Linked DNA regions of Homo sapiens. The protein of the gene in region 1 interacts with the protein of each later gene in a pairwise test. Each region holds a gene or a part of one and is shown on either strand. Other genes may lie near its edges. The genes, in order: PRMT3, RASSF2, TSC22D2 and BEND7.

What was found.
Region 2: the proteins of PRMT3 (region 1) and RASSF2 interact in a two-hybrid assay, tested with the Homo sapiens proteins (one large-scale study listed by BioGRID and IntAct).
Region 3: the proteins of PRMT3 (region 1) and TSC22D2 interact in a two-hybrid assay, tested with the Homo sapiens proteins (one study listed by BioGRID).
Region 4: the proteins of PRMT3 (region 1) and BEND7 interact in binary tests that used the Homo sapiens proteins (3 or more experiments, as listed by UniProt).

Annotation. Positions count from the first base shown.
Region 1 is NC_000011.10:20,486,893-20,494,495, reverse strand, and holds part of PRMT3 (protein arginine N-methyltransferase 3), read right to left. Parts: intron 578-7,603; coding exon 527-577; intron 330-526; coding exon 242-329; intron 1-241. UniProt on the Homo sapiens protein: Protein-arginine N-methyltransferase that catalyzes both the monomethylation and asymmetric dimethylation of the guanidino nitrogens of arginine residues in target proteins, and therefore falls into the group of type I methyltransferases.
Region 2 is NC_000020.11:4,792,276-4,799,878, reverse strand, and holds part of RASSF2 (ras association domain-containing protein 2), read left to right. Parts: intron 1-1,793; coding exon 1,794-1,869; intron 1,870-3,912; coding exon 3,913-4,064; intron 4,065-7,251; coding exon 7,252-7,340; coding exon of another isoform or gene 7,341-7,346; intron 7,347-7,603. UniProt on the Homo sapiens protein: Potential tumor suppressor. Acts as a KRAS-specific effector protein. May promote apoptosis and cell cycle arrest. Stabilizes STK3/MST2 by protecting it from proteasomal degradation.
Region 3 is NC_000003.12:150,450,459-150,458,061, reverse strand, and holds part of TSC22D2 (TSC22 domain family protein 2), read right to left. Parts: intron 987-7,603; coding exon 935-986; exon of another isoform or gene 930-934; intron 1-929. UniProt on the Homo sapiens protein: Reduces the level of nuclear PKM isoform M2 which results in repression of cyclin CCND1 transcription and reduced cell growth.
Region 4 is NC_000010.11:13,494,806-13,502,408, forward strand, and holds part of BEND7 (BEN domain-containing protein 7), read right to left. Parts: intron 5,875-7,603; exon of another isoform or gene 5,705-5,874; intron 5,276-5,704; coding exon 4,973-5,275; coding exon of another isoform or gene 4,934-4,972; intron 2,084-4,933; coding exon 1,961-2,083; intron 1-1,960.

The DNA.
Region 1 (7,603 bases):
TGGGTGTGGTGGTGTGTGCCTGTAATCCCAAGTACTTGGGAGGCTGAGGCAGGAGAACTGCTTGAACCCAGGGGATGGAGGTTGCAGTGAGCCGAGATCACTGTTCTCCAGCCTGGGTGAGACAGCGAGACTCCGTCTCAAAAAACAAATATAGTGTGCACATAAAAAGTGGCTGTAAAATGAATGAATATCATTTACTTCAGAATGAATAAGATACTTCCCCCCTACTATTCTTTCTCACCTGCTTTAACTGAAAATGGTTTTTCCAGTAGAAATACTGTTTGTTTCCAGTGTGTTTTGGTGCTCTGAGGGCCCGTAGAGAACACGACCTGAATTGGTAAAGTTCAAAGGTATTTGATGAAGTACAAGATTTTTAATATCATGGTACATTAATCTACGACATCAAACACAAGCCCCAATTGCTTACAGCAGCAAAATGCTTATGATTAAACACCTTGGGGCACAAAATAAAATATAATGTACTTCTGTAATAATTAATTCTTATGAGATAATTCATGATACTTACCCTGTTGTGGCAATTCTTCTCAAAATATATATCAAAGTAGCCAGCAATTGCCTGTTTTTTAAAAAAAGAAATATAAATGCTTACTAAATGAATTACATAATATAATAACTCATTACTGTCTCTTAAGACATGGCAAATGATAAACCATTTCAGAGACTAAATACCTCTTAAACTCAATATTTTTCCTGGAAAAGATGTTGTAAGTAAAAACGAAGTAATGTAATTTGGCTTTTCCTCACAGAAACAACATAATAAAGGTAATAAGGCTAATCAAATAATTAGTACATTTTATTAGAGAAATAATCATGCTAGACCACTGAAAGGTGAACACACATGGAGAGAGAGACTCAGCTGGCCCCTCACTGATCCTCACTCGCCAACTGAGATGTCCACCCACGCATTAGGCTATCTTGACTTCTCCAGCTGTAGTCAAGTGTTCAGACAACTGCAGCGGCATGAAAGATGCCAGGAAGGACCAGCAAGTGCACTACTCAGTTAAGTCCAGTCAGGATTGCAGAATCGGAAACAAACAGATAAAAATGGTTTGGGCTTCAAGCCAGAGTTCTGAGATGGGCTATTACATAGCAATAAATAATTAAAACATCCTATTTATACAAAGCCAGTTCATTTAATTTCTTCTAGTCCAGTATATCTGTTTTTAAGTACTATGAATATTTTTGTGATGAAATAAAGATTTTTAAAATGTTACTTATTTTTTTTTTCCTGAAAAAATGAACAGTAGTACTCAAATCTTATGTTTAAGCAAGTACTCAAAGGAGAAACTCCAAAGTGAGCTCTAAGGGTTATTGTGATAGTACAAAAAGATTTTTTTTTTTTTGACATGGAGTCTTGCTCTGTTGCCCAGAGGGATCTCAGCTCATTGCAACCTCCGCCTCCTGGGTTCAAGCGATTCTCCTGCCTCAGCCTCCTGAGTAGATGGGACCACAGGCGTGCGCCACCACACCTGGCTTTTATATTTTTAGTAGAGACGGGGTTTCACCGTGTTGGTCAGGCAAGGCTGAGTAGATGGGACTACAGGCGTGCGCCACCACACCCGGCTAATTTTTATATTTTTAGTAGAGATGGGGTTTCACCATGTTGGTCAGGCTGGTCTCGAACTCCTGACCTTGCGACTCACCCACTTCGGCTTCCCAAAGTGCTAGGATTAGAGGTGTGAGCCACTGCACCCAGCCTACAAAAGATCTCTTAAAGAAATTAACATACTCAGATAAATACATAATTTTGAGTTTTTTGGTTAAATTTAAATACCATTCCATTTTCTTTCACTATTGGAACTAGCTGGACTTAATCACTTTTTAAAGCTGGCATTACATTAAGCTTAGAAAGTGTAAAAAACAGGACACTGATTTTTTGAAAAATCATGGTAAAGCTAATTTGTGTACTCTGCTACTTTTGTTAAAAATGTGACATTTTATTGATCTGGTAGGGTTAATATGGATTAGGTCCAAACCAAACTCAATATTTAACCCTGAGGTTCACTGCAATTTAGATACCAAGAGAGAATCAAAATACTAGTAATAATTCTGCCAAATAGAATTATAAAACAATGTAGTACTCAGCCACAGATTATCATAAAAACCACGTGGTTAATTAGAATATTTCTAAATATAACTTTATCAGTTGATTTCCAGATACTTATGATACCCCTTCACAGACCAATTCAACTGTTTTCTTATTTATTCCTGTATGCCTGTCTTGTTCACCACTATACTCTCAGTGCCCAGAGCAGTAACCTGGCCCATAGGATACAATACAATACAATATTTGATGAGCAAATGTGTTTATTATACATTCTGTTATGTTAGTTACGATAGTATATTACAGTTTGCCTTATACTGCAATTTATTTAAGAGCAAGGCATATGTATAACTCACTTCTATGCCCCTTACCCAATACAATGTTATATAGTAGGTTCTCAATAAATTTTAGCCAAATTAAAATTTTTAGTCTTCAGTCTCAAATATGGCTAGCTTTATTACATAGTCAGTATACTTTATTAAAGCATTGACTAACTGAACTTGAATGGAACTAATAATTTTTAACTCTGAAAAGCATGGAACATGTGGGACAAATATGGAGAGGAGAGAGCTAGAAAAGATCTAATTCTGTATGTAGGAAATGCAGAAGTCTCAGCCTAACCCCCAAATTACGCATTTTCAGGTGAGATCCAAACCCACACAGCAAAAGCTTAGAGCATTGAACTAAAATTTGAATCACTGCTGCAAGTCTCAGGATTAACCTCTGGATAAAACATGCATGGAAAAAAAACCGAAACCAACAAGTAAAGGCCTAGAGAACTGACGTGAGATTGGAAAAATCTGTAAAAGTCTCAGACTAATCCGTAAACTAGGTATGTGTAAGACAGCCTCAAAACAGCATAACAAAGGCTTAGAGAATGTGACTGAGACTTGGTCAACTGTCTGCTCGGACACTAAGACAGAACTTATGGTCTGATTTTAACTGGGCTTGACTGCTAACAACAAACATCAACATCCTTAAGATTTTAACAAGACACACAGTTTACACAACATAGCATGCACAACATCTAAGGTGCAATCTCAAATTACTCAACATACAAAGAATCAGGAAAATTGAACAACTCTCAGGAGAAAAGACAAGCCACCTCTGAGATAATCCAGATGCTCAAACTATCAAGCAAAACTTTAAAGCAGCAATTATAACCATGTTCCAACGGTGACAGAAAACACAATGGAATGAATCAAAAGACAGAAATTCTCAGCAGAGAAACCATAAAAAAGCACCAAATGAAAAATTTTCAATTGAAAATTATAATAACTGAAACTTCCGGGTTGAATAGCAGAATGGAGATGACAGGGAAAAAATCAGTGAATTTGAAGATTGATAGAAATTATCCAATTTGAAGAAGGGAAAAAGACAGCAATTAAAATGCATGTTATAGAACCTTGGAGACCTATAGATCTAACGTGTCATTGGTGGTCCAGATGGAAAAGAAAAAGACACTGATGGAGAAAAAAAAGTTTTAAAATTCTATATCTAGACAGAATGAATGAAGGCATTTTCAAGTCAAGGAAAAGTAAAGAAATTCATTGCCAATAGACTTCCTCTAGAAACATTTTAAAAGAAGTTCTTCAGAAGGTAAACTGGAACAACAAGAACAGAAAACCCATAGTTCTAAAACATCCTTTTGTTTTCAAAATTTTTAGTGTACCTTTTAAAATTGTTTTAAACTCATGTAACAGCCTCTCATCTTTCTGTAATTATACTTCTATAACTGTTATATTTATTGCCAGTCTTTTTTTAATCAGAATTAGAAATGCTTCTCTTCATGTATCTGAAGATGTCACAAAAGCTGCTTTTAAACCCAAATTTTCACAAAAGCTCTTATTAGCTTACTAGGATTTATTTTTCCCCACATTTTTTGGGGGGCCTCCCAAAGCACTGGGATTACAGGTGTGAGCCACCACGTCCAGCCACACATGCTTATTAATCAATCTCCAAATCTGTGTATGAATTTCAGTTAAAAATTTCCAGCCCTTAATAATATAGTGAAAGAAATACTGGGAAGTTCTGGGTAACCAAAAAATAAGTTTTAAGACAAAGAAAAATGACAGATATAGTTAACTTCAGTTGTAAGCACTGGAAAGAATCTATGACAAATATCTGAAATTGCATCTATGTGAAATGCCTCACAGTATCTTTGAGTCTTCAAGCACAGTCACATTTCTAATGAGGTTTGGTTTACAGTAATACTCAGTTCCACAGCACACATTAAACAGAAAGCAGAAGCATGAGGAGAAGTTAGGAAGGAATTCACCTAAAATTCAAACTGTGTGCAGATAATCTATCTACTCACTAGACAGCATTCGTACAGTTGAGAAAGTGGAAGATTGCTGCTCTGAAAAAAACAAAGGGAGTTTCTGGTTTTAAAATGGGTGTCTACCCTCAAACACCAACATGATCTAGAATGCCCCTTAAAGAGACAGGGTTTGTGGTGTTACCTTTTTTTCTTTTCTTTTCTGTGTGATTCTTATTTTTAAAAATTTTTATTTAATTTTAGAGATGGAGTCCCGCTATGGTGCCCAGACTGAAATCAAACTCCTGGGCTTAAGGGATCTTTCTGCCTAAGCCTCCTGAGTAGCTGGGACAACAGTTGCATGCTACTAACTCTTAATTAAAAGAGATTAAGAAAAAAAAAAACCCCTTCAATTTGAAACATAGTAATATAAAACCAAATGAATTATGATTAGTGTTTTTATTTCTGCAAAGCTATTAAATAAGGAATAATGATATAACCAAATATCAGCTGATTTAGGAATAAATGACTTATTTTGTCAGGAAAATATAAACATGCCACTATTTTCAATTACAGTTTGGCCACCTTGCTACCATCACTTTGACAGGCTATCTTAACATCTTTTAAATGTTAATTTCAATGAATATACATTATCTCTGTGGAAGTCATTCAAATATAAGAATAAACAACCATAGGAAATAATGACTAATAGGCAATGGCAACAAATAACTAACTGGAGCTACAACTTGACATATGCTCGTAAAAGATCAGAGAGGTCTGAAGGCTGACTGCAGAAGAAATTTCTCCTTTGTCTCACGTATATATCTTGTTGGGGCAATGAGAACTGCTGAGGGGGAAAAAAGCATTAAAATCTATCTGTAGGAGTTGGGTTAATCTGCAAAGGCAAGGTCACAGTTAAATAAAATTTCACTGAATTATACCACAGTCAGAAAAATTTATAACTAAAAGTTTAGTTATAAAAGTCCCTTAGAGTGAGAGAAGGGAGAATGAGTGGTAAGTAGTAAAAAAACAAAAACAATGATAGAAGAAAACAGAATGAAAGGAAACTACGTATACATAGTGAATTTCTGGGATAGCTTGATCACTCTTGATATTTTGTGAGAATCCTCGACAATTACTTTGATGCACATAGGAAAATACAAGCATGGAGCTCTGTTGTACATCTTAAATATTCCTCAGCATGTAATAGTTTCAGAACTCATCTTTTTGTGGATTTCACAAAAAGAAAACTCATGGCATTTGTAAACTGAATCATGAAAAAATCTGTTTTAAGCCATGTTTTGTTTATATGTATAAAGGTAAATGCAGTTCATTTAATATACACTCATTTGAAGAACAATGATTTGGGATAAAAAATGACTTTCTCAGGTATTTTAGTGTGATGAATATTTCTTTAAAGAGGACACATTGTGTGTATGTAATAGGATGGCAACCAATGAAATAAGATCAGACTAGACCTTATGAGGAAGAAGGAAATTAAAAATTATCATTATCACTATCACCTGCAGGGAGTAATTTATCATTTCTGTTCTTCATTGGTATCATGTTCCAACAGCATGTGGTTACAGCAGATACAATTAGGCAGCTGGCCACAGAAGTAGGAGGATAATGTGCTTTTGATGGAGTTTATCCAAGCATGGAGATAGAGTGCTTGTAATCCATGCAGCAGAATCACTATAACAAAAATACAATTCATTTTTCGTTGAAGTATTTCTTTCAAAATCTCAATATGGAATGCAAAAGCCAACTGATGAGTCTGAAGCAAGCAAAGAAAGAGTAAGCAGACAATGCCATAAAAATGACTGTTATAGCTTAGATCATCATATATAAACCAAGGAGATGAAAATACAAACATAAGCTATACGAGCTGCCACATACAGAGCATGAACTGTGCTAGTAATAAATGGCGTTTAAGAAGACATAATCAACAAATATGAAAATTATATATTATGATTTTTTCCCCAATTGTAACTATACATTAAATTACGGACTCTTTCTTTTTCAATTAATTTTCTATTGTATCCCAAGAGAAAATCTGCACCTTTTCTTTCATGATTCTCCTCTAGGGAACAATACACATTAAGTGCCATATACGTCTCAAGAGATACTGCCAGATTGAGTGGTGGTAAAAAATAGACAAAGCAATATGGGAAGTAGTAAAACAGGCAATAGTCCAAAAATATTTTTAAAAATACTTTTATTGAAAAACACAATGTAATTTATTTCTGATCTACATAGAATATTTCAAGATAACTGAAACTCCTTTTAAATTTATTTGGGATTGCTTCCTTGTAATTTCAAAATTGCTTATTAAAGTGGTTTTAGGGGGCAAAAATCATCTTCAGAGTCTGTAACACGAATACTTTCATTTTGACATTTCATAAATTGATACCTCACATTTCTTCCTAGCTATAAACACAAAATTGTTTTATACAACCCATATTCATTGAAATTTACTGATTTTTCATTTTAGAAACTGCTTTATAATGTACATTCAGAAAAGTGCACATAAGTGTACATCATGCTGAATTTTCAAACTGAATACAGCTGTGAAACCCACACCCAGATGAAGAAACAGAACATCTCAGCACCCTAGTAGTCCCCCTCATGCACCTATGCCTCTAACGACCTATCCTAATACTCTTAAGCAAAGATTCATTTTTCCTATTATACTTCAATATATAAAGAATCATACATCAGGCAGTCCTTTGTGTCTGGCTAATTTCCTCAATATTGTTTATGAAATTCATCTACATTACTGCAGATGATTCATTTTCATGGCCGTAAGGTATATGTGACTATATAATTTAGTCTACTGCTGACAGGCACTTGAACGGTTTTTGTGAATATACATAACATGGCCATTGGGTATATACCTAAGAGAACTACTGGTATGTAAATATTTACCAGTTTTGTTCACCTTTATTCCTTCCTGAATTTCTGGCCTTCCATCAGGGATCATTTGCTGTTTGCCTGAATATCCCTCGGTACTTCCTTTGGCACAGGTTTTTAAGGCAAATTCTTTCTCTTCTTTTCTGCTTATCTGAAAATATCTTTATTTCAGCTTCATTCTTCTTCTTCTTTTTTTTTTTTCTTGAGATGGAGTCTCACTCTATTGCCCAGGTTGGAGTGTAGAGGTGCAATCTCAGTTCACTGCAACCTCCACCTCCTGGGTTCAAGCAATTCTCCTGCCTCAGCCTCCCGAGTAGCTGGGACTAGAGGTGTGTGCCATGATGCCCGGCTAATCTTTGTAATTTTAG
Region 2 (7,603 bases), on another chromosome or scaffold:
TGGCCTCCCAAAGTGCTGGGATTACAGGCGTGAGCCACCACACCCAGCTGGGATTTCTCTATCTTAACGAAATATTTAATTTATCTGGGACTAAATTGTTGGAAGTCCTTAGGCACACTTGACACATGTTTTGTGACATCTGACCATTCTTATCTCTTTGTGGACAGATTTCCCCAGGGACTTCTACCAACCAATGATTTTCTCTCCCGGTTTCAGATCTGTGTGTTCAAAAGTACCAAACGGCCTTTTGTCTTAGGTGATTTCGAATCACATTTTCCACAAATTTATTTCAGCTTGCATAGAATCATGCTGCTTTATCTAGGTTTAACTTGTCAGGATTTTCTTGGCATTTCCAGTGGGTCTTGACTCCTGGCGTGGTCCAAAATCTCTCCACTGAATGGCTGGGTTCAGAGAGGCTGAACTCTGCCACCTCTTACTTGAGACTAGACAAAAGCGCACAGTGGCCCCCTCCACCTCTCGCCCCTCTCATCCCACCTGGAGTGCAAAACATGCACTTTCAGATGAAACTTGACTTGTGCATTCTCAGGGTTGATGAGGGATTTCCCTGATCACAAAGGGGGTGAAATCTCCTCTCTGGCCACGTGCAGTAGAGCTGTACTCCCAGTGCAGCCACTTGGAAAACTTGGTGGCTAAGGAGGTCCAGTGCTGGGCTTCAGAGGGGGAGTTTCTAAGGGTTTTTATTTTTTAATTTTTAGAACTGAAAAAGTATTGCCAGGGCCCAGAAGCCACCTCATGCCCACTTCTTGTCACTACTCCCCAAGGTGAACCACTATCCTGAATTCTAACACTCCATTTTGAACTTTCTGTCAATGGAATATGATCTGTGCTTTTTTGTGAAAGAAGCTAGACACAAGAAAAGCACATATCCTATAATTCCCATGAGTCACACACATGCGTGTAGTTGTGTAGTTCATTCACATTCTCTTCGCTGATAATTTTCCGTTGTGTGGCTATTGCTTCCTTTATGCACCCATTCTGATGCTGATGGGAGTTTGCAAGTTTTTTTTTTTTTGTTTGTTTGTTTGTTTTTTTGAGATGGAGTCTCAGTCTTTTGCCCAGGCTGGAGTGCAGTGGCGCGATCTCAGCTCACTGCAACCTCTGCCTCTGAGGTTTGGGTGATTCTCCTGCCTCAGCCTCCTGAGTAGCTGGGAATACAGGTGTGCACCACCACGCCTGGCTAATTTTTTGTATTTTTGTTAGAGATGGGGTTTCACCATGTTGGCCAGGCTGGTCTCAAACTCCTGACCTTAAGTGATCCGCTGGTCTTGGCCTCCCAAAGTACTGGGATTACAGGCATGAGCCACTGCGCGCAGCCAGCTTCTGAGTCTTGTGAAGGCCTATCATTATTGTCCTTTCCTCACTCACAGCGTGCTTGAGGGAGAAAAGGCCACAGCCATGCAGGAGAATCGCTGTGTGTGGGCTCTGAAGTGCTCGCCTCAGTGAATCCATGGCTTATTAACACCTGCTCATTCAGCTTGAGTTTGGGAGTATTGTCGGTAGACGAGGCCTGCCTTGGTGTCCTGGAGTTGCTCCTTACTTTAAGCATTGTTCTGGGGTGGTGCTCACTCTTGACTTTGATCCTGGGGGAAGATGGTTATGGGGTGGTGGTGGCAGAACTCTGTGTGCATGTGCATGTGTGTGTATGTACATGTGGACAGTTACCCAAAGTGGGGTGACTGAAGGCCAGGTGAGAGGTGAGAGAAAGAGGGAACAACTGCATTATAAGTGGCTTCAGCTGATAATGTTATATCTCTTCTATTTTTCCCCCTAAGAAATGAACTTCTCTTGCATCTGAAGACCTACAACTTGTACTATGAAGGCCAGAATTTACAGCTCCGGCACCGGGAGGTAAGGAGTCCCCAGGGACGGCCCTGATTGGCTAGTCCAGGGCTTGTCACCATGTGTCCTGGGTCTGAAGGTCCCTGAGGTCCCAAGAGAACCCTGCCTCTCCTGCTTCTTATTTAGGTTGCTAGTGAGAGTCCTTGGGGTTCTTTGGAAGAAGACTCCAGGCCCAGTTTTGTTCCAAAAAGGATGAATGTTTCAGAGATGTGTTCCAGAGACATTCCTGTAGAAATGTGGCAGGGCTAGCCCAGTCTCATGGGGGAGATTCTCCAGAGGGAGCTTTCATGAAATGACCTTTCCAGGTGGCTCCCAAGCAGACGTTCTCTCGTTGGGCAATTCGGGAACCCCACCCAGTCCTCTGTGTTTAAACATTTGGGCCCAAGTCCTATCACTGCAGTGACCTGGGCAAAGCACATAAGCTCTGGATGTTAGCAGAGTCCCCACTGATAGTGGGCCCGTCCCCACACTTGGTCATCCTAGGTTGCTTTTGTTACTCATCTGATTCCCATCCTGAAACTGAGCTTACTCATCCTGTATCCATTTCTCTAAAGCCTGTTATCAGATAGATGATGAGTTATAAAGGAGTCTGGTAGGGTACTTTATACTCAAGCGCCTGTGACTGATAAAAAGGTCCCTATGTGTAATGCCCTTTGAAACACATTTTCAGGTTATCAAGCTGTGGCGATTTAACCATAGAAACAGATAACAGATGGTGGAATTTCAGCTGCTAGGGCAGGTTGCTTGGGGACAGTATGTGGGATGTAGTGGCCTATTCTGTGTCCCTCAAACCACTCCACTTAGACAAAATCCTGTTTTGGGTTAAATTTTGACCTACAATTGTGTAAAGGAATGATGCCCACCTTGACCAGGGGAAGGCCATGTAAATTGCCTATGTTTACATAAAGCCTTCCTCCCTGAGACGCCTAAGCACCGTAAAATTGTTTCATTTCTCTCCTTCCCTCTTTTATTCCTTCCTCCCTCTTTGAGGATGATTTTGGGGCCCAAGTTAGTTAGTTGCTCAATGGGCTGATGTTATTTTCACCTATGGGGCTTGTCCTGAAGATGTGTTCCATGACCCAGATCTAACACTTGAATAGCCCATAAAACATGGCTCCAAAAAGGTTTTTCTGAGACTAGAGGGAGGAGAACCGATTCTTTTAGGAACTGCCCTTCAAGCTTTTACTAATCAGCAGCTGGGCCATGCAAGATTTTAGTTCTTAAATAGCTTTCCTGGGTTATGTCCTATAGAATAAATGATTAAAAGTGCTTCATGATTAAAGGATTTCATAGTCATAAGCGAGTCCCAATTCTTCGGGATAGAACATATAAATGCCTCTAGAATGGTTTTACATTTAATGTCTAATTAGTCAGCAACCTTTGAGTATAAATTGGGGACTCCTGCAAGATTTATTCACCTGTTGGAGAGTTGTCATTTAGCCCGTTAGTTTATTACAGAACCTGGGACATTCTGCTGTTTGGAAATCTGATTAGCACAGCCTCTCCCAGCTCATGATCACTTGACACCCTTTTAAAGACAGCAGTTCATCTGCTAGAGGAGCTAGTGTTCTGTAGAATAAACTTCGGCAAATGTTGCTTTAAATTTCCTTCAACCACCAGGTTGGATTGCTAAACAGATGTTGTAGCTAAAGAGACATCATTTTCCGTAGTAGGGGATGGGACGTAGCTAACTCCAGTTCTTGCTTCTGTTAACAAGGCTAATCTCACTTATTTTAAGAAATGTATTCCGCTTTCTTTAAAAGTCATTAGGATAAAAAGAAAAACAATGCTTTTTATAATTTATACCTATGTATTTGAATTTCACAGCAACTTTTGTGCTGACCTGTGAGGTCAGCTTCAGGATCTGGAGTAGTTGACGTCAGAAAGTATCTCAGAGCTGCGGTGTGAACTGGGCAGCTGCCCCTATCCTGTGAATACAGTCTGGGGGCCCCCAGCCAGGACATGTGAAGAATGTGTCATTTGTCCCTCAGCATGGTCTTGGCTTCTGTGGGGGCTTTTCTAGGCTCACTACTCTGATTGCTTTGTGGGCAGGAAGAAGACGAGTTCATTGTGGAGGGGCTCCTGAACATCTCCTGGGGCCTGCGCCGGCCCATTCGCCTGCAGATGCAGGATGACAACGAACGCATTCGACCCCCTCCATCCTCCTCCTCCTGGCACTCTGGCTGTAACCTGGGGGCTCAGGGGTGAGTGAGGAGAGACGGGGCAGGGAGATGACTGGGATGCTTGGGTGTTCTATGTGTTCTCAAGCAGATAAATGCTGCCTTCTTCCAGCCAGCCCTGACCCTGGCTCCTCCTCCTACTACCTCTACTGCCCACCTGCCTTAGCCTTGGAATGAGGAACAAGCAGCAGATGTGGTTGTGATTGAGCCCCCTTCCTGTCACTGCAATCACTGATGAGGTCACAGGAGGGGAGCTGCTGAGTCATACGAGGGGAGCTGCTGAGTCAGAGTCCTCCCTTAGGGAGAACTCAGGAGTCTCTGAGTGGAGCTGCTAGTGGCTAGTGAGGCCCAGCCTGTATATTTCTAACAGGGCGCCCCATGCCCCAGCACCCTCCCCACTGGGACCACTCCTCATAGAATAGCCCCACTCCAAAGCATTTATGACTTGAACCTTCTGACCAAAGCTCTCTGAATCTTGGGGGAACCTAGAAGAGGAAAAGGAATGTCAGGCTCTGTCAGAGTCAGCCAAGCGAGATCAGCCAGGGGTCTGCTCCCTGCAGACCATACGGGGAGCCAGGGTTTGGTGAGATGGTGGTAGTCTAAGTTCCCACCAGAAGGGCTGGGAAGACCTAGTCCATCCCTCCTTATCCTCCATGGCTGAATAAGCCGCCAAATGCGCCGCCAAATGCCTCTAGCAAGGCATGCCCTCTTTATTGTCTTTCTGGGACTTGAGTTTTAGGATCAAGTGACTAGCCTGTCTCCATCCTGAAACCTGCTGATGCTGACTGCCTTCGGCCCCAGCCTGGGTGGAGTGTGCTCGCCTCTCAGCCAAAACCACAGTGACCTTTTTTTCTGGTTTAAATGAAAACCAAGCCCTCTCTGTTGGCCACATTGAACATTTTGCTAAACTCCACAGCCAAATCTATGTTTCTCTACAATTGAGAGAAACCTACTATGTGGCCAGCCCTGGGGCTGGTCTGGTTTCTTTCCAAGGGGATTTAAGGAGGAAAATTGTTGCCCACCCCATAGGTGCTAGGATGTCTGGTTAAGGTTCTTTGGTTTCATCTAACTTTGCAGGTTTCATGCTCTGCTTTTCAGCACTATCACCATATTTTTGTTTTGTTTTGTTTGAGACAAGGTCTCACTCTGTTTCCCAGGCTGGAGTGCGGTGGCTTAATCACAGCTTACTGCAGCCTCAACCTCCTAGGCTCAAGTGATCCTCCCAACTCAGACTCCCCAGCAGCTGGGACTATAGGTGCACACCGCCCCACCCCGACCTTTTTTTTTTCTGTTGCCCAGGCTGGAGTGCAGTGATGCGATCTCGGCTCACTGCAACCTCTGCCTCTCGGGTTCAAGCGATTCGTGCCTCAGCCTCCTGAGTAGCTGGGATTACAGGTGCCCACCACCAAACCCAGCCATTTTTGTATTTTTTGGTAGAGAGGGGGTTTCATCATGTTGGCCAGGCTGGTCTTGAACTCATGACCTCAAGATATCCACCTTCCTTGACCTCCCAAAGTTCCGGGACCACAGGGGTGAGCCACCATACTGGCCCTACCTGGATAATTTTCATGTTTTTTGTAGAAATGGGGTCTCACTATGTTGCACAGGTTGGTCTCAAACTCCTGGCCTCAGGCAATCCTCCCACCTTGACTTCCCAACGTGCTGGGATTACAGGTGTGAGCCACCATGCCCAGCTGTACTTGTTACACTGTACTGTATTTGTTATACTATACTGTATTTGTTATACTATACTGTATTATTGCTGTATTTGACTGCCAATGGCCAAGCCCATTTCACAGCCTGACCCTGACCCCCAGACTATTCTATTCCCTAAGTGAGATGATTTTTAAGATTTCGTTTGAGCCTGTGGCCTTTGGTTTGGGCTGCTAAAGGGTCCTTCGGTCCGCCTGCTTCTTCTCCCTTCTCTGCGGCATCAAGCTGGTCCTGGCTGACTCTGCAAAATACTTTGGTAGAATTTTCAGGAATGGTAAATGGTGTCATTTAGATGTCAGCTATAATACAGTGAATGCCTAGACTGCTGTCTTAAGAAGGATCCTGAGGCTGTGCGTGGTGGATCGTGCCTATAATCCCAGCACTTCGGGAGGCTGAGGCGGGTGATCACTTGAGCTCAGGAATTCAAGACCAGCCTGGGCAACATGGTGAAACCCTGTCTCTACAAAAAAATAAAATAAAAAAAAAAAATAAGGATGCTGAGACCGGTTCCTGCTTCAGCAAGAATGAAGGCTTTAAATCAGGGAGTGGGAGTCGCTGCTCTGGGTGCCAAGTGTTCACCATTCCCCAGAAGCTCTGACCAGGTCCATTCTGTGGTTCAGAAGTATATGAGTTAAATTACAATAGGAAGTTCTTTCAGATTTTCCATTTTAATTGTCCTTCCTTAAAACGATCCTCCCCAGAACATGAGGTTTATCTCTACTGGGTCCCAGGGAGCCCATGCTCTTCTCACCATGGGTTGTTCCTAATTGGTCAAATATGATTCTCCTTTCTAGCCAAATCCTCTGTTGATTTTGGATGTTTTTCTGAGCTGCTCCCTTTGTCCTTTTTGGCTTTGAGAAGTTATTTGCCAGTTATGATGGCAAACCAGGGTCTCAGCTTGGACTGCCTGCTTGTAACCCTTTCTTCAGCTTGGATGAGGACTCCATCCTTGCAACGCTGAGAACACTGTCAGTGTCCCTTCCAAAGCTGCCCCTGCCCTTGTTGTGGCCAACTTATTACTTTCCATTCCTTTTGAATGCCAGAAGCAATTATGAGTTATTTCTTCAACAGCAATGAGTCTAAACTGGAATCTTACCCTGCAAAACGAATGGCCACTATTAGAGTTTTCCAAGTAAGCCATAGAATCCATACATGCTTAGAAGCAGTGCAGGCAACACGTGGGTTTTGTTCCTTGGTATTATCCATCCTGGGCTTGATGAATTGGTTGGGTGTGTTACTGCAGTTGCTGCAAAAGAACATCTTCTCCCTCCGGAACTCCCCCTGCCCCACCCACTGCTTGACCTGGGAGCTGGGCCAGCCTTTCACGGGATGCTCCGCGCAGCCCATCTGCACCCTTCATCACCTGATGTGTGCCAGTACCCAGCCTGGCACTAGCAAAGTGCTCCCCTTTCAGGAGTGGGGTCCAGCGGGTGCGGGGGCGTCTCTCCACAGGGCTTAAACTAGTCTCCCCCCTCCCCTTTGTCTTCTCCACTCCCAGAACCACTCTGAAGCCCCTGACTGTGCCCAAAGTTCAGATCTCAGAGGTGGATGCCCCGCCGGAGGGTGACCAGATGCCAAGCTCCACAGGTACATGTGAGTGGAAGGTACTTCCAGCTAGGGACCAACTGTGTGAAGACCGCTGTGATAGATGTTGTAAACTGTTATTTATTTTTGAGAATATAAAATGTATATGGTTCAAGATACAAAGGGAGAGAATTAAGTCACCCACCTCATCCACCCACCTAGAAGCATCCCGAGAACATCCTTCGTGGGATAGTCCATGCAAATATAAGCAAAACACACTGACATGTCTTTATGGGTGGATGTAGTTTCTTTCCCCCTCCCCTCCC
Region 3 (7,603 bases), on another chromosome or scaffold:
AGAACAAAGGAACAATATTCCAACGGAAAGCTGTTTGATGTTAAACTAGTCATAGTACTGCTTTAAAGTGATCTGTAATTTTGGACTTTAAAATTTTGGTATTTTTAAAAAAATAGTTTGAGACTAACAGTCCTGTAAGGTCTCACACCGGTAATCCCAGCACTTTGGGAGGCTGAGGCGTGTAGATCACCTGAGGTCAGGAGTTTGAGACCACCTTGGCCAACATGGTGAAACCCCGTCTCTACTAAGAATACAAAAATTAGCCAGATGTGGTGGTGTGTGCCTGTGCTCCCAACTACTCAGGAGACTGAGGCAGGAGAATCACTTGAACCTGGGAGGTGGAGGTTGCAGTGACCCAAAATCATGCCACTGTACTTCAGCCTGGGTGACAGAGCGAGACTATCTCAAAACAAACAAAAATACCAACTTTTTTTGTAGAGACGGGGTCTTGCTATGTTGCCCAAGTTGGTCTCAAACTCCTGGCCTCAAGTGATCCTCCCACCTCAGCTCAGGTGCTGGGATTACAGACACAATCCACTGTGCCTGGCCTACTTATAGCTTACTTACAGTCTACTTCAATCAGACCTCCAGCTGTTTTTGCTTTAATACTCTTTTTCACTCTAAAGTATTTTCAATGCTGAAATATCTGGGGAACATATTGTCTTTAAATATGTATGCCCCCTCACCAATGGCCCTTATCAATGATAATGCATGAAATGTGAGATATTCAAATGGAAGAAATATCTACTTAAATAGTATTTCTAGACTAAAAGTTCTCAACGTTCTAGCATCTTCAACTAAATCTCATTATCAAAAAACATGATTTGGTCATCTTTGGTTTAAATAACTTATTTGTTTTCTAAAACTGACAAAAGCTAAGTGTTCCATACAACCAACAATCTATGAAATGGGAGAACTGTAAACTTTTACTTACCATTGCTTGTTCTATTTTGTTGTCAATGGCTACAACACCTCCCCCAGATGCACTGGAAAAAATTAGAATATGTTATTATTCTAAAAAATTTAACCTCCCTTCCAACTCTTAAAAGAATGTAAAAGACATTTGTGTTTCACTTAAAACCAAATATACAGTAATTTAAAATAGCTTATTCTGTTCTGACAATTTCAGTACTCAAAGCTCTCATTTCTAAAATGAAAGTCTCAGTAAATAGATGATTTCTACAGGTCCTTTGTAGTGCCAACATTTCTAATTTGCCTGTAATACATGTATGCTACTTTAAAACTAACTCTCAATTGTATTAAGAATTTCTCTGTTCAGTGGTTTTAAAAGGATACATTTTAAATGGGCAGTGTCTTCTCCGTATCTCTTAAATTTCTACATTAACCAACTATACATTCTAATTGCCTTTCATGTAGAAATTCCAATAATTACTTATTGTAGTAAAATTCAGATGATGGCTTGACTTTTTTTTTTCTAGTCCCTCCTCTTAGTAAGACTTTTCTGGTATAAGTTTTATACTTTAACATCTAGTTTTTTAAAAAAAACTTAATGGCTTCTAAAAATGGTTCAGAAAGTCTTTGGGTAGGATTGGTTAACAAGAAACTCAACATTCAGCCGGGCGTGGTGGCTCACGCTTGTAATCCCAGCACTTTGGGAGGCCAAGGAAGGTGGATCACTTGAGGTCAGGAGTTCCAGATCAGCCTGGCCAACGTGGTGAAAACCCATCTCTACTAAAAATACAAAAAAAATTAGCCAGGCTTGGGGCGGGTGCCTGTAATCAGCTACTCAGGAGGCTGAGGCAAGAGAATCACTTGAACCCAGGAGGCAGAGGCTGCAGTGAGCCGAGATCACGCCATTGCAATCCAGCCTGGGCAACAAGAGCAAAACTCCATCTCAAAAAAAAACAAAAAAAAAAAAAACAAAAAGAAACAACATTCTGGCAGACCTACATGTATTTGACTGTAGGTTACTTGCTGGCAAAAATCACCTATAAGGTATGTGTGGTTTAGATCAGTTCTTCTTGGGAATAACTGAAAAGTTATCCAGCCTGTAAGCACATTCCAAGTTCAAATATCACCTTAGCAATTGTATGATAATAACACAGAAGGCTAATTGTCCTCTTTGGTGGTTTATATTCTACCATGTATTAAGTAGTAAGAATAGCTGGAATTTATACCCTTTTATTGTTTTTTAATGAATTTTATTTCTAAAAACAGTTATTAGGTTTTTAAAAATTACTCTTGTAAAGAAAAATCTGATACTGTAGCTTATTGTATCAATACGAAAAGATAATTTTTTATATGTTACTAAATATTCTTCATAAAGTATACTCCACCTAAGATTTTAGTGCTAAAATACCTGGAAACTACTTTACTTTAGATGGTGTGGACCCATAATGTTGTATCAGATTGAGGCTCAGAAATATCCTGTCCTGTGATATCCTGCTATTCACTTCCTATGGGACATCAGCAAATCACCTATTTAACTTCCCTGGATCTGAGTTTCCCCATCTGTAAAACAAGGGGTTGATGTCAATGCCTCAATGGACTTTCCACTTCTAAATCCTTGAAATCTTGAATCATTACATGGGAAACTACGTTTGTTTATTTGAGCATTAACCACATTAATTACAGCATACTACCTTCACTTCTTGCTGCTACTATTTCTAAGATGAAAAGAGGTTTTGTATATCTAATATCTAGAAAGGATTTATGGATCATTAACAAATACTTTATATGTGCTGGGCTTTAAATGCTTTTAGTGAGCTGTGCAAAGTATGACTATATGTAACTATAAACTACAGAACCACTAAGTCAACCATAACGCTTTAGTATATACTTCAGTGCCAGATACCATGCAGACATATTCACCACAAATACTGAACACATTTTGGCAAAAAAGACGGTGACAGGCATTTAAATTAGTTTGCTTGGGAATCCCAGATTATACTTTCTATATTTTTATTGACATGACAAGGAAAGATTGAATTACTTTTAAGTCATGTCATGACTTAAATCATTTGATTCCTTCAACACATTTGGTTTAAATAGCACACCTTAAATACTAACTACAACATCAGTTTTATGTATTAACAAGCAGTAAAAAAAACAAAAATTACTGGGGTTTTTTTTTGATAATTAAAATCAGTCAGCGAGTTTTAGAATGATTCCCATAGCTAAGGAAGAATAGTTAGCATGCTATTCTTTGAATGCTGACCTAACAAACTCTTGTCCTAAGATCTCTTTTATGACAACAGAAGAAACAGGTTTGCAAGGTATAAATAGATCATGATGAAGATGTATCCCTTAAATGGTGTTAATATTTCAACTGTTAGGTGTTGTACTCTAATAGAATAAATCAGTGTCAAATATAATTACTACCACTATAGTGACCTTTAACTATCTTGAAGGCTATTATTCAAGAATTCTATAACCTACTGCAGGGGTCTCAAACTTTAGCATGCACCAGAATCATCTGGAGGTCTTGTTAAAACTCAGGTTGCTGGGCTCCCCCACTCAGAGTTTCTGATTCAGTAGGCATGGAACCAGGAATCTGCATTTCTAACAAGTTCCCAGATGATGTGGAATCTACTGTCTGACTATGCTTTGAGAACTGCTGGCTTACAAATGAAAGTTATAGGAGGAAAAATTAAGAAGCCTAATTCTATTTTTAAAACTTTTTAGCCTGGCATATAAAATTCTTTATGACTTTGACCTCTGCCTTATACAGTCTGTTTTCCTCTTATACTCCATCTGCCTATTGTGTTATGGTCTTATACAACTATTTGTAGTCTGTGGAACATATGTTCTCTCGGGTTTCCTTGGCTTTGCAGAAACTGCTCCCTCAGCTGGAAATGCTCACAGTTCCAATTCATCTGGCTATCTTAGACCTGTCCCTTAAGATGCTCCAGTGCCATCTCTTCTGTGATGCTGTTTGATTTTCTAAGGTAGAGCCAATTACTCCATCCTTTCTGGGGTCTACCAATCTTCGCAAACTTTTTATAGTGCAAAAAGGCAGAATAGCAAATTCTGGCTCCTCCATATACTCACTATATGAATTCTGGGAAATTATTTAACCTTTCTAGACCTCAGTTTTTTCATTTAAAATAAGGATTATATGCCAATTGTGAGGATTAAATGAGTTTACATAATGCATAGTACTTGGCACACTGAGCACTCAATACAGACAGTGATTACTTTGAGTATTGTAATACTACCACTGTTGATCCTATTAGATTGAGCTCTTTGAGAAAGGTTCCATAACTTCTTCATCTTTGTGAATAAGTGAATTCAGTGCTTAGCACATAGTAACTCAATGCATACTGATAGTAATTAGATATGATAGATTTGAAACAATTAATGGTTCATATGAGGAAGGCATTAAAATTTTTTGAGTTCAGATAAATCAGTTCTCAAAGTGTAGTCCCTGAACCAGAATCATCAGCATCACCTGGAAACTTGTCAGAAATGTAAATATTTGGACCCACCAAGACCTTGTTAGAAATGTAAATATTTGGACCCACCCCAGATTTACTCTTGGGGCGGGGCCCCGTAATCTATTTTAACAAACTCTCTAGGCGATTCAGATAGAAACTAAAGTATGAGAACCACTGCTTTAGCCATATTTACGATGGAGATACCAATATGGTAGTCTTAAGCAAATAAGAGACTATTTTATTTCAAGATCCCAGAATATGGTTTAAAAATACTGTTTCAATGAGGGTATCAAGATGTTTTCTATTATGTTCAAAGTTATCATAGTGAGATTTGACTCTTTTAAAATGAGAAAGATCAACTGAAGCAGAATCAATAATTTCCTTCCTTCACCTAATGTTATAATACTATATACCTTGTTTTCTTTTTAATTATTATATTCAGCACATTATATTTTGATGGTTTAACCAGTTTCCAAACTTAAGCTCCCTAAGAAAAGGCTTCCTGTCTTTACTTCCAGCACAAAGTATATATACCCGGTACCCTACAATGGTGGTAGTATAAATATTTCAGATTAGTGTGTATGTATAGATACATACTCAAACTGAAATAAGTCAATTTTAAATCAAGTGTTACAATTACTGCTACAGAAGCATGAGGGAAAAATGAGTTCAGAATTTTCTTTTTTAAACTATTATGGTAAACTGGAAATGCTAAATAAAGTCAAAAGATAATTTTTAAAAATAAACTTTCTATTTACTATGAATCATTCTTAGAATAAAAATCAAACATTTATTAGCATTTACAGATGCATTAAAAATTGTGGATATGGAGAGAATGAACAGAAATATAGAGCTGTGGAAAGTAAGAAAGACCTACAAGAAAATATTTATTTACTGGAATTGCTGCTCCAAAATAACTAAATGAGCTTGAATTCAGTGTTTAAAGCTAATTATACTTACACTCACAGAAAAAGTATAACTCAGAGTATCAATGCTACAGTAAGGCAGGTTGGCTTTCCATGCTGTTCATCTTTTAATTGATCCTAACTGGCTCTCCACCACAGCTTTTCCTCCTAGGTTTCCTTACTCTTACCATGAGATTACTTGCAACATTACTGAGAAAGCAAGAGGATGGATGAAGAATTTCCAACTCTGTCACAAGTTAAAATCACTAAAGAAAAAGGTAATCTAATTTAATCTCTCTCTCTTTTTTTTTTTTGAGACAGAGTTTCACTCTCGTTGCCCAGGCTGGGGTGAAATGGCGCGATCTCAGCTCACCGCAACTTCTTCCTCCCGGGTTCAAGCGAGTCTCCTGCCTCGGCCTCCCGAGTAGCTGGGATTACAGGTATGTGCCACCATGCCCTGCTAATTTTGTATTTTTAGTGGAGACGGGGTTTCTCTATGTTGGTCAGGCTGGTCTCGAACTCCCGACCTCAGATGATCTGCCTGCCTTCGCCTCCCAAAGTGCTGGGATTACAGGCGTGAGCCACCACGCCCAGCCTTGATCTCTATTTTTAAAAAACTATGAGAAACCAACTTTTTTCTTTATCTGTAGTAATGTGGACAGAGACATGGTGACTACTTATTTAAAATAAAAAAATTCAGCCTGGGCAACATAGTGAGAACCCATGAAAGAAAAGAAAGAAAAGAGAAAAGAAAGCAAGCCCACGGTCCTAGTTACTCAGGAGGCTGTGTGGGAAGACTGCTTGAGCCCAGGAGCTCAGGGTTCATTACTGCACTCCAGCCTGGGTGACAGAGCCAGATCTGTCTCTAAAAAAAATAAGAGAACTACTTCTCTTTTTCAAAATGGACATATTTTGACTACTTTGTCTTTCCCTAGATATAAATGCTAATTAACAAATCAACAAGATAGAGGAAAAGAACACTTAATGGTTGTCTATTTTAGGGCAGGCACACCTTTATCTTAATGAGTCCTTACAATAAGCCTGAGCAACATTCTCATTTTACAGTTGAGGAAAGTGAGGTCAAGTAACTTGCTCAAAGACACAATACTAGGAACAGGATTCAAACCTGGACCTAATGTCAAAACACACATATTTTCTTCCATAATACTAAGACTGTGAAAAAATAATCTCTAATGACCTGAAATAAATCCAGAATTATGTGTATTATTAAGAGTGCTTTAACTAAGTACCAAATGTTAAGTTGTGAAACCATAAGCATGGATCCAAAGATTAAACCATGCTCAGAATATGCCATTTATCTTATCTGGCAAATTCCTAGAAGAGGTTCAGCTCTGAGAATAAGGGAGGGAACCTCTTAGAAAAGGCACTTGCTTAGTGATCTTTTTATAGCTGATACAGTTTACCTAATTGCTAAGAACGAAAATGTTCTTCTGGTTTGTTAGAAAGCTGAAGATGCCTTAAAAATTTTATGTATCTTTAATTAAAATACTGCAAAAAATAAATAAATAAAATAAATGCCTTGCTTTACTCAAAGACTCCTCTAACTTTGCATTGAGTTACAATCACAACTATAAATGCACTACAGGAACTCTCCAAATTACACAATCAAATCTTTTGTAATACAAACTCCTTTAAGTTGGTAAATTTGGCATACTTCATGCTCACACCCCCTTGCCCAAACCAACTAAAACTGATTCTTCAGAAACTCACAAGTAGAAGGAAGCTATACCTTTCTTTGGGGGCAGTCCTAAGGAATCATACACTGTTTCCAGTAAATCATCTATAACTTTTATTCCACCCACTCCCATCTCCCAAAATAAGCACTGTAATAACATCATTACTACTAAAATGCATTAATTCTAACCTGGGTAACATTTTGCCTATTCTCTAACAAATGCATGTTTTATTTTTTTAGAAAGAAAATTAAGAAAATGCGAGTCACTGATTACAAAGGAATAAATCTAATCAATCTACAGTTCAGTAAACTTGTGAGGTTAAATATAATTTTAAAAATCCACCACTCTTCTGTAAGAGGAGACTAAAAAATATTTACAGCTTAATTTAAGAACAAATAACAATTTTCCTTTCAAAAGGGCCTAAATAAATAAAATTCATATAGACAACCTCTGGCTGAATGCAAACCTCTATGGTTAAGAATAAAACTTGGGTGAAGTTAATAATAAATTAAACTAAGAACTCAAAATGTTATGTTATTCTAATTATTGACCATCAGTTCTACCAATGTAAAACAAATAATGTTTAATTTCATGATTAAAAAAA
Region 4 (7,603 bases), on another chromosome or scaffold:
TATTCCCTGTCTTCTTAAAAGAAAGGTGAAACTTTCTAAATGTAATTTAAATCTAAGTCTTCAGGCATTAAACCTTAAGTAAATCTACCCACATGACACAAATTTTTAAGTTTAAGAAAATTAAAGGAGAGTAATTTATTCAGTTTATCCTTTGTGCCATCCTACAGCTTTGGAATCGTTTACCTCCCTAATCTGCAAAGGTTCAGAAAAGAAAACATAGCGACAAAGTGGCATTTACTTAATAGATTCTAAAAAGGCTTCCGTCAAGGATTTAAATGGTTGCAATTTGTAGTTTGCCATTTCAGTAGTAAGGAGCTTAAGTGACAAAACAAATCATTACAATTTCATATGCATATTTTCTTAAGTGCTAACAAATTCCTCCTCGGAGAAAAGAATCCGAACATCATAAAGTAACCTTTCTTTCTGAGCTCCTTATTTAGGAGATGTTAACCTCCTCCAGGTTAATAAGAACACAGATTATCGTAGTGGAACAAGGTGAGTCCAATGCTTACTGACCTGAGCAAAATACTTCCTTGGGGTAAAACCAAATTCAGTGCTTAAAAAGATGCTGTTTAGCCCGGCGCGGTGGCTCACGCCTGTAATCCCAGCACTTTGGGAGGCTGAGGCGGGCAGATCACCTGAGGTCGGGAGTTTGAGACCAGCCTGACCAACATGGAGAAACCCCATCTCTACTAAAAATACAAAAATTAGCCAGGCGTGGTGGCACATGCCTGTAATCCCAGCTACTAGGGAGGCTGAGGCAGGAGAATCGCTTGAACCTGGGAGGTAGAGGTTTCGGTGAGCCGAGATCATGCCATTGCACTCCAGCCTGGGCAACAAGAGTGAAACTCCATCTCAAATAAAAAGATGCTGTTTTTCAGAAAGTAGCTCACATTACTTTAATGTGATCTTGGGTGACTGATATATCTAAGTATTAATTAAGCTTTTTATATCAAAACCACATCACTGAATATTAAAATTATACTAGAATTCACTAAATGGCATCCTGAACAGCTTCTGAGTGACGACCTTCCGGACTACCATCCTGATGAAAGGGCAGGAAAGCCAGTCACGACATGGCTTAGATCAAGTGGTGATGTCCCTTGACAAGAGGGAAAACTTAATACAATGATTTATTTCTTGTACCTGTGACAAAAACAATTCTGTTTTCCCTCAATTGTGAAGATCAGAAAATACAGCTGCTATAATGAAGACGTAGACTTCCAGACTTCTATAGAACGCTTCATGGACTTTAAGACCACACTAATGAAACAGCTTAGGCTTGTACCATGCCTTATAAAGTTCATTGACAGCTACTACATCATTCTATTTTGACAACAGCCCTGTGAGTTAGATATGAATTCTCCATTTACAGACGTGAAATAGGAAGCTCAGATGCGCCACACAGCTCCAAAAGCAGAAATTGGCATCCAATCCCAAATTACAAATCCACTGCTCTTCCGTCCCTCAACTTGCCTGATGGCAGTGAAAACAAAAAGGAGTCACATAAACAAAGACGACAGAACACGGCGGATTTCTGAGCTTCCGCATCCTGAATAGGAGAGAGAAAAGCCACAAAGCATAGCCTGGGGCTCCACATTTCTTATCTGCTTAGTGCTTGAACACTGAAGCCCATGCTTCCTAAAGGACCCCTCCATACACAGTTGTTCCCAAATTTAATTAACTGACATTTGTGAAGTACTAGGAGATCATGGAATGAAGTCTATCGAGTACATACACATAATTATATGAGCTGTATCAGTAGCAAGACAAAATATGTTTGATTTGCTAAAGGAAAAATGGATTGTAGAGAAAGCTGAAAAAACAGATACTTGAAAAGGCACAGCAAGACAGCAAGGTGAGAAGAAGGCTTTAATAAAAGCACAATGAACATTCCAACGGAAGATGTCAGATATGCATTAAAAATCAAAGGACTCATTCCGAGGCCTGATCCTTGTACCTGCTTGAATTTGCATTAATTTCCTCATGGTCTTGAGTTCTTGTAGAATGGCCTGCAACGTTGACTGGCAGTTACAAGTACAGCAGTTTGATCCAGCTGATGAATTCACCACTGGAAGTTCTCCTGAGCATGAAAGAAAAGAATGACATACTCCAAACAAACCAAAAAAAAAAAAAAAAATCATAAAGAGGTGGAGAGAAAAAAGAAAGTATCTTGGCAGGATTTTGAAGCATGTGCAATTATGATGAAGCTGTGCCTAAGGAAAACGTACCCACTAATTATCACAACCTAAATCTGGGGGTCTGACTTTATCTAATTATCCAGGCTTCCATACTGTAACGTGCGTGCTGTGGCGCGGTGCGGGAGCCCGCATGCACACACACACACAATGAGTGGGCACAGCAGGCCTCCCTATTGTCAGAGCTGTTCATCTCAAATAACAACACCTCAAAAACTCACTCGAAACACACTCATGCTAGTTCACACAAAAAAGGAGCCCTGAGGACAGCCTTGCAAAAAAAATTTGGTAGCTGTGTTTAAGAGTTCATATTAAAAATTATATGAGTTCTATTGAAAATAGTTTTGATATTAAGCACATTATTTCAAAAACAAAGAACTGTGCACACATGAAAACTTTTAGAATACTCTCTGGGTGTGGCGTTTGGGGTGGGGAAGCACAGAGGAGCAGGGATGGGAGGATATATTCGAATTGGATGCGTTCGAGGGTATTGGTGGGCTGGCTGGCTTTTCTTCAGCTTCACAAAGAAAATCTCTCTACCTCTTTTCTCCATTCCCATGTCTTATCTTTCCCTTGCCACAGCCTCTTTTGCACTGTTTAAATTTAATGCCTTTTCCTTGGTAAACCTATCTTATTCTGTTTCTCTCATAGGTAAGCAAGTATCTTCTATTGTCCTTAGAATAAAATGGGACATTTGGACATTGCTCTTACAGTGGGTTCCCTCCAGCACCTGTTCACCTGACCACCATAAAATGGAGCAGTTTAGAGACTTCCAGCGCTCACATTGTCTCACAGGCCAGCAAGGTAAGTTCCATGGTTTTGTTCCAATTATATGTTTTATTATACTTTATATACCTTAAATCCTGTAATATGCATTATTTAGGAATACTATAGAAAAATTCACCAGAGCAAAACCATGAAATACTTCAGGATAACTTAGTGATTGTAGTGGTACAATTATTTACATTCAAAATTGTAGCAAAATTGTAATGTTACAACTTTAAAATTATAAATAATCCCAATGAAATACCAAAGTAGTCACAGTTATATGTAATATATTTCTTTTTCTTTTTTTTTTTTTTTTTTTTTTGAGACAGGGTCTCGCTCTGCTGCACAGGCTGGAGTGCACTGGTATGATCTTGGTTCACTGCAACCCCTGCCTCCCAGGCTCAAGCGCTTCTCATGCCTCAGCCCCCCAAGTAGCTGGGACTACATGCATGCGCTACCACGCCCGGCTAATTTTTGTATTTTTTAGTAGTGATGGGGTTTCGCCATGTTGGCCAGGCTGGTCTCGAACTCCTGGCCTCAAGCAATCCACTCATCTCGGCCTCCCAAAGCGTTAGGACTACAGGCACGAGCCACCACGCCTAGCCATATTTCTATTGAAAACATAAAATATCTATTTTCAAACTGATATGGGGGAATTTATGTTTGTAACTTTTACTAACTTCATACTTTTCAAAGTAAATCCACTGTCCCTACTGTATACTGGGAAACAGAACACTGTTCACCCAAAACTTACTGATGTGGGGTTTATTAACTTCATACATACCTAAGGGTATTTTATTTCTCTTATTGTCTCTTCCATGGTAGTAGAGTTAGAAAGGTCTTAAAGAATATTTCTAGTCACTATTCTAAGTACCATCTTTTATCATTTTTAGAAGACAAAACCAACCCTTTTCAGCTTGTTATAAATCATTTTCTAATTTTAAAGAGAACTGACTTTTTATTTTTATGGAGGAGTCTTTAAAGAGCTGTGTCCCTCTAACCTGGAGGCATGCCAGCATTGGAACTTTGATACTGGCTTATGTACTACTGAGAGGCAGAGAAGACACCCATACATTTCTGGGGTCCTTCGCTGTCTCATCAATGTCTCAGGATGGCTTTTCATGCCTCTGAACCACAAATTGTGTTTTTAAAAAAAGTCAAAACAGTTCTCTTTTTCTTGAAGGATATTGTGAAATGAAAATGAATGGAAAAAAATCCTTAACTTCTTAAGGAAACTGAAAATGCTTTCTTACCTTTTTCTTGTTCTCTTTGTGAAAACTATAGATCTGCACATCTCTACAGAGTTTATAGAACAAATATTATAGCATCCAGTGTGGCCGGATAGAAAACTAATATGACCACAAAAAGCATCAGGTTTTTCTCCTTAAGCTTTGAAAAAAAATTGTCATTTGATTCTTTTCTTAACAATTAGGAAACTTAAATTAAGAAAATTTTACTTTAAAGGAATACTTTCCATTGCTAATGAAGCATGTTACAAAATATGGATCACTGGGTTCAGTACTGACGTGGGATGCTGGGTTATCGGCCCCCCACCCCTGTCCGCCCCCGCCTTTATCTGGGACTCTTCTGATAATGAGTAAGGTGAAGGAGTAACCAAGAGGATATGTTAGTAACACACCATAGGACCAGGAAGCTTCTTTTAAAGACAGTGGGGAGCTCTTTCTGCCCTAATGTTCAGGTTTTTTTTGTGACAATAATATCCATACATGGGCACAAAATGATCGCTTTAACCTCTTAAAGGGCTAAAATCTCTACCAGGAAATCTTCACTTATAACATAGAACCCCCTGTCTTTCCTAATTCTCAATTCTGTTTTTTAATAGTCTTCAACTCTTTCCTTTGTGTCTCCCTGTCTTTTAAAGTAACTCAGCAAAGGCAGGTAATTATGGGAGGGTTTAATAAATTGAACTCAACACACTGAATATTTAGAAATAGAACAGTACAAACCCCCATGAGAGCCTTCTGAATGTTTGTTGACAACCATACCATTGGAGCTCGTGGTAGGGTGGGGCTGGCTTTGGAAGGTTCTAGAACGGGTGCCATACTGCCCTGAGAACTGTCCACTCTGGGGCGGTAGCTCATTCCACACACCACGTGAAGACGGGTGGAGGCTTTGCGGGGCCTCAGCAGAGGAGTTCAAACGTGGAGGCCAGACTAAATCCAGGTCCTGGGGCTCTTCTTTTAGTTTCTCTCCTTCTTTGCCAACTCGCTGATAGATCCGCCCAGTGCTGTCGTTCAGCAATCTTCTCATCCCTGTAATTTGCTTTTTTATTTCCATGCTTTCATCTCCTAATGGAAACAGGGCCAAAGTTAGCACTCTAAATTAGTGAAAGAGAAAACAGTTCACTAACCAAAAAGAAGAGAAAGAAAAACAACCCTTCTTTGGAAATGGGAAAGATGACTGACTCTATGAACTTAATCTGTAAAACGCAAAGGCAGGAAAACTGACTACGGTCTGAAAAAACCCATCCTATTCCTGGTGCCTCTCATTTTAATCTCTTTCTGCAAGTCGCTTATGATGAAAGAGGTTTCTTGAGAGTGTGTCATCAGGAACAAACATGACATTCCCTCTTTGGAAGCATTTTCTGAATGAGTAGGTGATGAGGAAACAGGCTGAGACAGAAGGTCAAGGATAGAACTGGACCGCGGAACCCCTCTGCTCTGATGGGCCACAGCCACCCGTGAGGAATGGGCAGGTCACTAAAGCGCTCTGCTCACTGTCTGTCAGCTTCACCAGGCGGGGCAAGGACAAGGAAGAAAGCCTGGACTGGCAGGGACGCAGGGCTTCACTACTGACACAATGTCCTTCAGGATGACTGGCAGGGATGCAGGGCTTCACTGCTGACACAATGTCCTCCAGGATGACACGCTGCCGCTGGAGACATCACCTTCAGAGAGGACGGCCGAGGAGACAGAGAGGCGCCGAGTGTGGCAGCATGGCAAGCGAGGGGGTTTTGTCTTTCTGGCACTCTGACTCCCATCACATCAGCCTGGTGATGACCGAGGGGTCCCTGCCACTCGAGGTCACTGGCGGTACCAGCACTGGAAGGGCGGAAGTGCAACCTCCCCACCGTGCCCTCCTCCCATGCCAAACGCACTGCCACCTCCCCTGCAGCGTAACTGTGTGCGAAAGGTCACAGGCCACTTTGAAATCCCACTTCACCTACACTGACTTCTTTTTTTAAGATTTTTCTCCCGTCTCAGGACATTTTTTTAAAATGAAAGAACTTCTATACTGCACTGGGAGTACTTAATAAATATTAAAGATGTCTGTAATATTGCACAGATAGAAAATCTTTTTGGCCGGGCACAGTGGCTCACGCCTGTAATCCCAGCACTTTGGGAGGCCGAGGCGGGTAGATCACCTGAGGTCGGGAGTTCGAGACCAGCCTGACCAACATGGAGAAACCCTGTCTCTACTGAAAATACAAAATTAGCCAGGCGTGGTGGCACATGCCTGTAATCCCAGCTACTCACAAGGCTGAGCCAGGAGAACCCGGCTCACCCAGGAGGTAGAAGTTGTGGTGAGCCAAGATGGCACCATTGCATTCCAGCCTAGGCAACAAGAGTGAAACTCCATCTCAAAAAAAAAAAAAAAAAAAAAGAAAAAGAAAATATTTTCTATCAATAATAATATCAGAGGATGCTGATATCTGTTAGGAGCTATTTCAAACACACTATCTTCTTAAACTGTGCATCAGCCAGTATCTTCATAAAGATGAAGAGAAATGAATTTTTTTTTCTCAAACCCAAAAGATAAAATCTTAGGCCACTGTTGGGCATGGTGGCTCACACGTGTAATCCCAGCCCTTCGGGAGGCTGAGATGGGAGGGTCATTTGAGCTCAGGAGTTTGCGACCAGCCTGGGCAATATGGAGAAACCCCGTCTCTACAAAAAGTACAAAAGTTAGCCCAGCATGGTGGTGTGTGCCTGTGGTCCCAGCTACTTGGAGGCTGAGGTGGAAGGACTGCTTGAGCCCCGGAGGCAGAGGTTGCAGCGAGCCGAGATTGTGCCACTGCACTTCAGCCTGGGTGATAGTGGCAGACCCTGTCTCAAAAAAAAAAAAAATCTTAGGCCAGGGTATGTGTGTGTAAACATTCATGCAGTTACTCTAATAAATGCTTGAAATTTAAACTGTAAGATAAAGAAAAGGCTAACAGACAGCATCTGTTAAGAAAAATACAGCTCCTACAAATACACACAGCACATTCAATATAATGATTGCACTTAGGATCAATTATAATGATCAATATATGTATATATAAGGATATGTATATATATATATGGATCAACATAATGATTGCACTTAGGATAAGCCAGGTTTCTCTGTAGAACTGGTAACTGCACAATAACCTAGCCGTTTTGTGCTTTCCAGTTAGATATTTAGCTTATTAATATATGTGTTATGTTACTAAATAAGGAAGTTTATTTTGAATTTACTGTTCACTATTTTGAAGTAAATATCTTTAGTTTTTAAAAATGATACTAAAAACATTACAGAATATATTAATTCTGTCTAATTGAACATGAGTGAACACGGAAATAACACAGATTTCCAAATTTACAATATTGCTATGTGTTGTTGGCATATGCTTGAGAGGAGAAATATTCTAATTT